Linked DNA regions of Homo sapiens. The protein of the gene in region 1 purifies or fractionates together with the protein of each later gene. This does not show direct contact. Each region holds a gene or a part of one and is shown in the gene's direction. Other genes may lie near its edges. The genes, in order: TMEM47 and SNX8.

Region 1 (3,668 bases):
TAGACCCCAGATATGGTTCACAGGCTGTCCATGAACCACGAAGGGCCCCTGCTGTTTCTTCCATCATATCTCATGCTTCTCCCTTCCTGCTCTCTGTACTGCAATCACAGCCTTCTGACTTCTGTTCCAGTGCACCAGATATGCTCCTGTGATGGGAGTTTTGCAGTGCCTATGCCTTTCACGTGGGAATGCTCAGTCCCCACTATGTTGTTCTGCACCCCCAATTCATTCAGATCTGTGCTCAATATCTCCTCCTCAGAGCAGCCTTCTCTCACGATTGATCTAAAAGAGCAGCCCTCATCCCTGTGTTCTGTCTGCTTTCTTGCATTTCTTGTCTCTTAGCAATATGTGACATTATATTCTATATTTGTTTACTAATGGACTGACTACCCATGAGAGTAGCAGCTTTGTCTCTTTTGATAGCATAATGCCTTAAACTGTATCGCTTTAGAAACATTCAGATATTTATTGAATGGATGCATTTATTGAATGAGTAAATGAATTACTATACCTAACCCACATTCTTGTTTCAGTCATATCCTGGTAGGATCAGTACAGATTTGACGAGTGAACAGAGTATAGAAACCTAAGGAGAAGTGCCTTTTTTTTTTCAAATGTACTTGGCAACTTTGGAATTTTCTTCTCTGTAGTTATGGTTGATAGTAATTGACTTCTTGTTAGTTTTAAGACATTTAAAACATGAAAGCTCCCTTTTCCTCACAAAGGCAAAGAGCCAACTGGGCTTTTTTTAAAATTAATGCACATTTTAGCACTTACTAACTGGAAATAGATGAAGTGTGGGTCATACAATATGCCGTCAGCTGAGTCCTAACAACAACCAAAACCTTTTCTGAGAAGGTCTGATTTCTATTTTGGATATCAGTAGGGTATCCTCTTATACAAACTTACTTGTGTATCCACTCTCAGTAGTAATGGTAGGCAAAGTGCTGACTCAGCAGTGTTGTGCTACACGGCAGAAATGTTGGGTGTTTTTATATCTAGTTCTAGGTCGGTCCTTTGACACCTAGCCAGAGCCTTATAGAAAGAAATTTTGAGGAATCATTTCCTCATGAATTTGCTGTATTTCATCAGTTTTATGGGAGAGAAAGATGACTGTTATGTAGACTTTCTAGGAATCTTCATCATACTGGTAATAATCTTTTACATGGGCTAAAAATAGATGAGAGTACATTTTAAAACATAAAATTCCATTTTAATTAAACACTCTATCCATCCTAGTGTTCTTTTTTAAAACATATAAGCGATATCAAAACTATTTATGTATATAGTTTTACTATGTCAGTTTGTTCCCTCCTTTTCTTTAATTATTCACATTTTTGTTCTTTTCAGATGAATTAAACAAAAATTATTTTACCCCCTAAAATTATTTCATATATCAGAGGTTAGCAAACTTTTTTTGTTAAGGGCAAGAAAGTAAATACTTTTGGCTTTGTGAGCTGTGTGGTTTCTTTTGCAGCTTCTCAACTCTGCCATTGTTGCATAGAAAATACGTAAATGAATGAGTGTGGCTGTGTTCCAGTAAAACTTTTTCAAAAACAAAAAGCAGACCAGATTTGGTAGTTTGCCAACCCCTGTTAAATATAACTGTACTCTGTATTTTTTAGGGAAAAAGATTGTCTATTTCTTGAGGGTGGAAGCTGTCCTATGGTAGAGAATGAAGCTGTAGTTAACTAATTGTAGTTAAACTAATTAAAATAAAATTACATAATAATTGATCTAATAGGAAGTTAAGAATTTTAAGTGGAAGACATTATGTCTTGTGCATATCCACAACATAAATTTCATTTTATTTTAGATAGTAGAAACAACACAAAACAAAACAAAAACAAAATAAACATTCCCTTCCTGATTATTTTGGTTTATTTTATTCGGTATGACTAATCATATTTCCCCTTTGGCCCTGACAGAAGTAGGATCTAACCAGGGACTAAGAGCTAAGTTTTGACCTCTGTTACAGTAGCCATAATTGGCCTAGGTTTTCCTGTACCATTATCTCTCTTGCCTTTATCGACTTAATTCTTTTTTGAAAGTAGGTGGAAAACAGATATGAAAATATCATCTGTTAATAACTTTTAAGCCACTTTTTAAAGACAAGAGGCATAGAGTGGATGAGAAGAAAATAATGAAAGTAGCTTTGGATCAGAGTAATGTAAGCAAAGACATCATGGTGAGACTTTCTGGCATATTGGGCTGAGTTAGTATTGCAAAGCAGCAACAACATCAAAAGCACATTATCACTCACAGGATGACCAGTTGCATCAGTAGAAATTAATTTGAATTTCCTAATTCCTTAATAGCATAAATAAATAACAAGAGTTTCAGTTGGCATTGGGGTCACTATTCTTTTTTTTTTTTTTTTTTTTTTTTTTTTTTTTGAGACAGAGTCTGGCTCTGTCGCCCAGGCTGGAGTGCAGTGGCATGATCTCAGCTCACTGCAACCTCCCCCTCCCTGGTTCAAGCGATTTTCCAGCCTTAGCCTCCTGAGTAGCTGGGATTACAGGTGCACACCACCACACTGGGCTAATTTTTGTATTTTTAGTAGATACGGGGTTTCACCATGTTGGTCAGACTGGTCTCGAACTCCTGACCTCATGATCCACCTGCCTGGGCCTCCCAAAGTGCTGGATTTACAGGCGTGAGCCACCGCACCTGGCTGGGGTCACTATTCTTGAGGAGCTACTTATACGGTTTATTAGTGGCACAATTTAGTTTAACTAGTACTACTTGCCATAATAATAATGATAATTATATTTTTAAGGTGAAAATCACTACTTTGTATGCTCATATAAATTATTATATTGCACTAATTATTTTATCTATACTAATAATGATTTACTAATTAATAGGATAATTCTTATATATTGGGAAAAGGTATTTAAACAAAAAAATTATTAGTATTTTAAAGTATACCATCTAGAACAAGCCATCTTTAAAATTTTTGGCTTTTATGTATATTTGATTACAAAGTTACTCTCATACATATATAGTTACATATTTATATTATTTTATTTGCTGCAAATAACATTTTCTAATTTTGATTTGCTTTTCTTTCAGTTGTTTTACAGGTTTGCAGCCTGGTCCTTTACCCAATCAAGTTCATTGAAACTGTGAGCTTGAAAATTTACCATGAGTTCAACTGGGGTTATGGCCTGGCCTGGGGTGCAACTATATTTTCGTTTGGGGGTGCCATCCTTTATTGCCTGAACCCTAAGAACTATGAAGACTACTACTAGAACCAATAGTCTCAAAGTAAAAACAACCACCACCATCCAACAAAAGGATTACGTCTGCATCTTTTCTAACTTACTATTTTCTAAAACACTTGTGGAGCATCAAGCAGTTTGCTCAGTTGATTTAATCTTTTTTGCCTTTTGGCTGTCAACATCATAACCAGCTTTTACATCCATTTTAGAAATCTGCACAAATTAAGAGAGCTGATTAGACATAGGCAAATGCTGCAAACTTCCAATATGTTCATATCGTTTTTCTTGACAAATGAAGGGTCTATATGACAGCAACCATTGTGAGAAACTAGTTGGAATGAGATTTGCCTCAATCTCCTATTGCCTGCAGGGGAGCAGTTGGCATAAGCAACATTTAGAAGTTCCTTTGCGCTGACAAGGATTCCACTGTTAGAGCCCTTACCG
Region 2 (4,341 bases), on another chromosome or scaffold:
ATGCAGGATGCAGTGAGTGAATGAATGAATGTAGGATGCAGTAAGTGAGTGAGTGGGTGAATGAATGAATGCAGGATGCAGTGAGTGAGTGACTGAATGAATGCAGAATGCAGTGAGTGGGTTGGTGAATGAATGAATGCAGGATGCAGTGCGTGAGTGGGTGAATGAATGTACGAAGAAGCAGTAAGTGAGTGAGTGAGTGAATGGATGAATGAATGCAGGATGCAGTGCATGAGTGAGTGGGTGGATGAATGAATGCAGGATGCAGTGAGTGAGTGGGTGAATGAACGTATGAAGAAGCAGTAAGTGAGTGAGTGAGTGAATGGATGAATGAATGCAGGATGCAGTGCATGAGTGAGTGGGTGGATGAATGAATGCAGGATGCAGTGAGTGAGTGGGTGAGTGGGTGAATGAATGCAGGATGCAATAAGTGAGTGAATGAGTGAATGCAGGATGCAGAGAGTGAGTGGGTGAGTGGGTGAATGAATGAATGCAGGATGCAGTGAGTGAGTGGGTGAGTGGGTGAATGAATGCAGGATGCAGTGCGTGAGTGGGTGAATGAATGAATGCAGGATGCAGTGAGTGAGTGGGTGAATGAATGAATGCAGGATGCAGTGAGTGAGTGGCTGGATGAATGAATGCAGGATGCAGTGAGTGAGTGGCTGGATGAATGCAGGATGCGGTGAGTGTGTGAGTGGATGAATGAATGTAGGATGCAGTGAGTGAGTGGGTGAATGAATGAATGCAGGATGCAGTGAGTGAGTGGGTGAATGAATGAATGCAGGATGCAGTGAGTGAGTGGGTGAATGATTGCAGGATGCAGTGAGTGAGTGAGTGGCTGGATGAATGCAGGATGCGGTGAGTGAGTGTGTGAGTGGATGAATGAATGTAGGATGCAGTGAGTGAGTGGGTGAATGAATGAATGCAGGATGCAGTGCGTGGGTGAGCGAATGAGTGGGTGAGTGGATGAATGAGGAAGTGCGAGTCAGAAAACCCCAGTGTAACCGGTGAATGAGCGAACAAGGGCGTGACTGGGCGAGGAGAGATGGGAGTGAATGAGGGTGCGGTGGGTGCAGGCTTGCGCCTGAGGTAGTGCACCTGCGAGTCCGGAGGTCCAACCTGAGGGGAGGTAACCTGCGCCACCAGCAGGCTCCGTGTCCACGTGGACGGGGAGGGGCATGTGGGCGTGGCTAGGCGGGTTGTAGGCGTGGCGAGGCCGGGCGAGGAGCGCGGCGGGCCCGCAGGGGCGGACTGTGGGCGTGGCGCGCGGGGGAGGGGGCGTGACCAGGCGGGGTGTGGGCGGGGCGAGGGCGCGGCGCGGCAGGGCTGCGCGGCCGGGTGGCGCGGGAGGAAGTCACGTGGGAGCGCGGGCTCACATGACTGGCCGCGCGATGGACCCGCTGCCCGCGGCTGCAGTCGGGGCGGCAGCTGAGGCGGAGGCTGACGAGGAGGCGGATCCCCCGGCGTCAGGTAGGGCGTGGGGCGGCGGTAGCCCCCACCTGCCCAGGGCGCGCGGCCCGACCACCCCCGGCGGACGGGGCTCAGCCGCCGCGCTTGGTCCCCGACTCGTTTCCTGCCCCCGCGCCCCGCGTTCGGCCCCACGCCCCAGTCCCTCGGAGGTCCCCCTGCCCTCCTGCGCGCCTGTCCTTTGGGGGTCCCCGTGCTCTCTCGCGCCTCCGTCCCTCGGGGTCCCCTGCCCTCCTGCGCCGGGAGAGCCCTGTCCAGGTTACAGCTGGCCGCGTTCCGAGGCGCTTTCCCGGGGCTCTCAGAGGCGTCCTCGGGGACAGTTTCCTCCTCGCCCCGTTCCTGGTGCCCTGCTCTTCTGCCCTGCCTGGTCACGCTGAGCGATGGCACTGGGGGCCACTTCCCCGGACTTGGGCGCCTTTCCTAGCCACATCCTCTCTCCCAAGCTCCTGTCGGTTGTGTGGTCTTGGGCCAGTAATTTCACCTCTCGGGACCTCTGTTTTCTCATCTGTGAACCGAATCTATAGATGTGTAGCTGCTTTTCTCTCTCTTTCAAGTGATCCTCCGCCTTAGCCTCCCAAAGTGCTGGGACTACGGGCGCGTGCAGTTACGCCCGGTAATTTTTTTTATTTTTGTAGAGATGGGATCTTGCTATGTTGTCCAGGCTGGTCTGGAGCTTCTGGCCTCAAGCGGTCCTCCTGCCTTGGCCTCCCAAAGTGCTGGGAGTACGGGCATGAGCCATCGTGCCTGGCCTGTATTTCTGTCTTTTTCTTTTTTCTTTTTCTTTTCTTTTCTTTTTTTTTTTTTTTTGAGACAGATTCTCACTGTCACTCAGGCTGGAGTGCAATGGTGCGATCTCGGCTCATTGCAACCTCCGCCTCCCGGGTTCAAGCGATTCTCCTGCCTCAGCCTCCTGAGTAGCTGGGATTACAGGCATCCACCATGACACTCGGCTAAATTTTGTATTTTTAGTAGAGACGGAGTTTCACCATGTTGGCCAGGCTGGTCTCGAACTCCTGACCTCAGGTGATCCAACCACCTCAGCTTCCCAGAGTGCTGGGATTACAGGCGTGAGCCACCGCGCCTGGCCTCTTGTATTTCTCTTTAAGGGATTTGGGTTAATGAGGCTAAACATGGCTGGGCACGGTGGCTCACGCTTGTAATCTCAGCACTTTGGGAGGCCGAGGCGGGCGGATCACGAGGTCAGGAGATCAAGACCATCCTGGCTAACACGGTGAAACCCTGTCTCTACTAAAAATACAAAAAAAATTAGCCAGGCGCGGTGGCGGGCGCCTGTAGTCCCAGCTACTCGGGAGGCTGAGGCAGGAGAATGGCGTGAACCCGGGAGGCAGAGCTTGTAGTGAGCCGAGATAGCGCCACTGCACTCCAGCCTGGGCGACAGAGCGAGACTCCGCCTCAAAAAAAACAAAACAAAACAAAACAAACGAGGCTAAACATTAGAAGGAATACAGGAGGGTGCCCCTTATTTCTGGATGTTCCTTCCTGTGGTCCTAGCTGCCAGAGAAGAGATGTAGGTGGGTGTTGGTGTGAGTTACGGTTTCTTCTTGGTGGGGGGGGACAAGATTGGGGAATCCCCTTGTGGGGAGGTCTGGCAAGGTGTCGCTGAGGAGGTGATGACTGAAGTGAGCTCTGGAGGGTTGGTAGACAGTTTCTTCGTCGGCGAGAAACGGCAGCGGGGAGCAGGGGAGGGATTGTTGCATTTGGTGGGCATCCTCGATGTGAAGACTGTGTCTAGAAAGAAGGGCCTTTCAGAATGGGTCTTCAGTTATTTTTTCCTTTCCCTTGTATCAGTGTAAGGGGAGGCACGTGATAGTTCTCGCTGATTAGAACATTGTGTCCATGAAGTCACATGTTGGAGGCCAGCGTGAGTCTCAGGCGGGACCCTTTCCGAGGGGTCACTTGGGAACAGGTAGGCTGTGATTGGATCGGAATGCTGCTGCTATCTCAGCTTGTAAAGCAATTTGGCATTGCTGGAGGGGTCCTCTGCAGGTGTAGGGGACTGTGTTTCCTTCAGGCTTCACAGAAGTAGACTCCAGAGGCTACCATAATGGTGTAATTTAGAGATAGTCTGAGCGCTGTACACCTGAGGGAGCTGTGTCTCTGGGAGACCGCCCTCCCTTTGGTGTGGCCTGGAATTCCTGTAGGTAGTTGGCTTTTTCTGGGGGCAGTGGTGATTTCATCAGGAGTGCTGATGGGATCCACAGATGGGGGTTGCTGGGACAAGGCAGTGCTTCACAGTGCCCTTTCCTGTAACCAGGCAAGTCTGAAAGTGGGGCTCACAGACTCTTGGGACGTAGACTGTCCTTCTGTTTGAAACTTGGTCGTCATCCTGGCAGGTGGGTGAAGTGGTATAGCAGGTCTTTTTTTTTTTTTCTTGAGACGGAGTCTCGCTCTGTCGCCCAGGCTGGAGTGCAGTGGTGTGATCTCGGCTCACTGCAAGCTCTGCCTCCCGGGTTCATGCCATTCTCCTGCCTCAGCCTCCCGAGTAGCTGGGACTACAGGCGCCCGCCACCACGCCCGGCTAATTTTTTGTATTTTTAGTAGAGACGGGGTTTCACCATGTTAGCCAGGATGGTCTCGATCTCCTGACCTCGTGATCTAGCCGCCTCGGCCTCCCAAAGTGCTGGGATTACAGGCGTGAGCCACCGCGCCCGGCCTCGCAGGTCTTTTTACATTGAGAAAACTAAAATCCAGAGGTAAGTAATTTGCCCAAAGTGGGCAATGTCAAGGGAATGTGTGTTGATGGGGACCCTGATTGGGTGGGCTGGAGTGAGAAAACCTCAGCCTTGAGACCAAGCACTGTGGCTCACGTCTGAAATCACAGCACTTGGGGAGGCTGAGGAGGGAGGATCGCCC

What was found.
Region 2: the proteins of TMEM47 (region 1) and SNX8 purify together in Homo sapiens (affinity purification with mass spectrometry; one large-scale study listed by BioGRID and IntAct). This does not show direct contact.

The regions. Positions count from the first base shown.
Region 1 is NC_000023.11:34,629,899-34,633,566, reverse strand, and holds part of TMEM47 (transmembrane protein 47), read left to right. Parts: intron 1-3,075; coding exon 3,076-3,254; 3' UTR 3,255-3,668. UniProt on the Homo sapiens protein: Regulates cell junction organization in epithelial cells. May play a role in the transition from adherens junction to tight junction assembly.
Region 2 is NC_000007.14:2,311,457-2,315,797, reverse strand, and holds the start of SNX8 (sorting nexin-8), read left to right. Parts: upstream 1-1,356; 5' UTR 1,357-1,376; coding exon 1,377-1,470; intron 1,471-3,127; exon of another isoform or gene 3,128-3,324; coding exon of another isoform or gene 3,325-3,394; intron 3,395-4,341. UniProt on the Homo sapiens protein: May be involved in several stages of intracellular trafficking. May play a role in intracellular protein transport from early endosomes to the trans-Golgi network.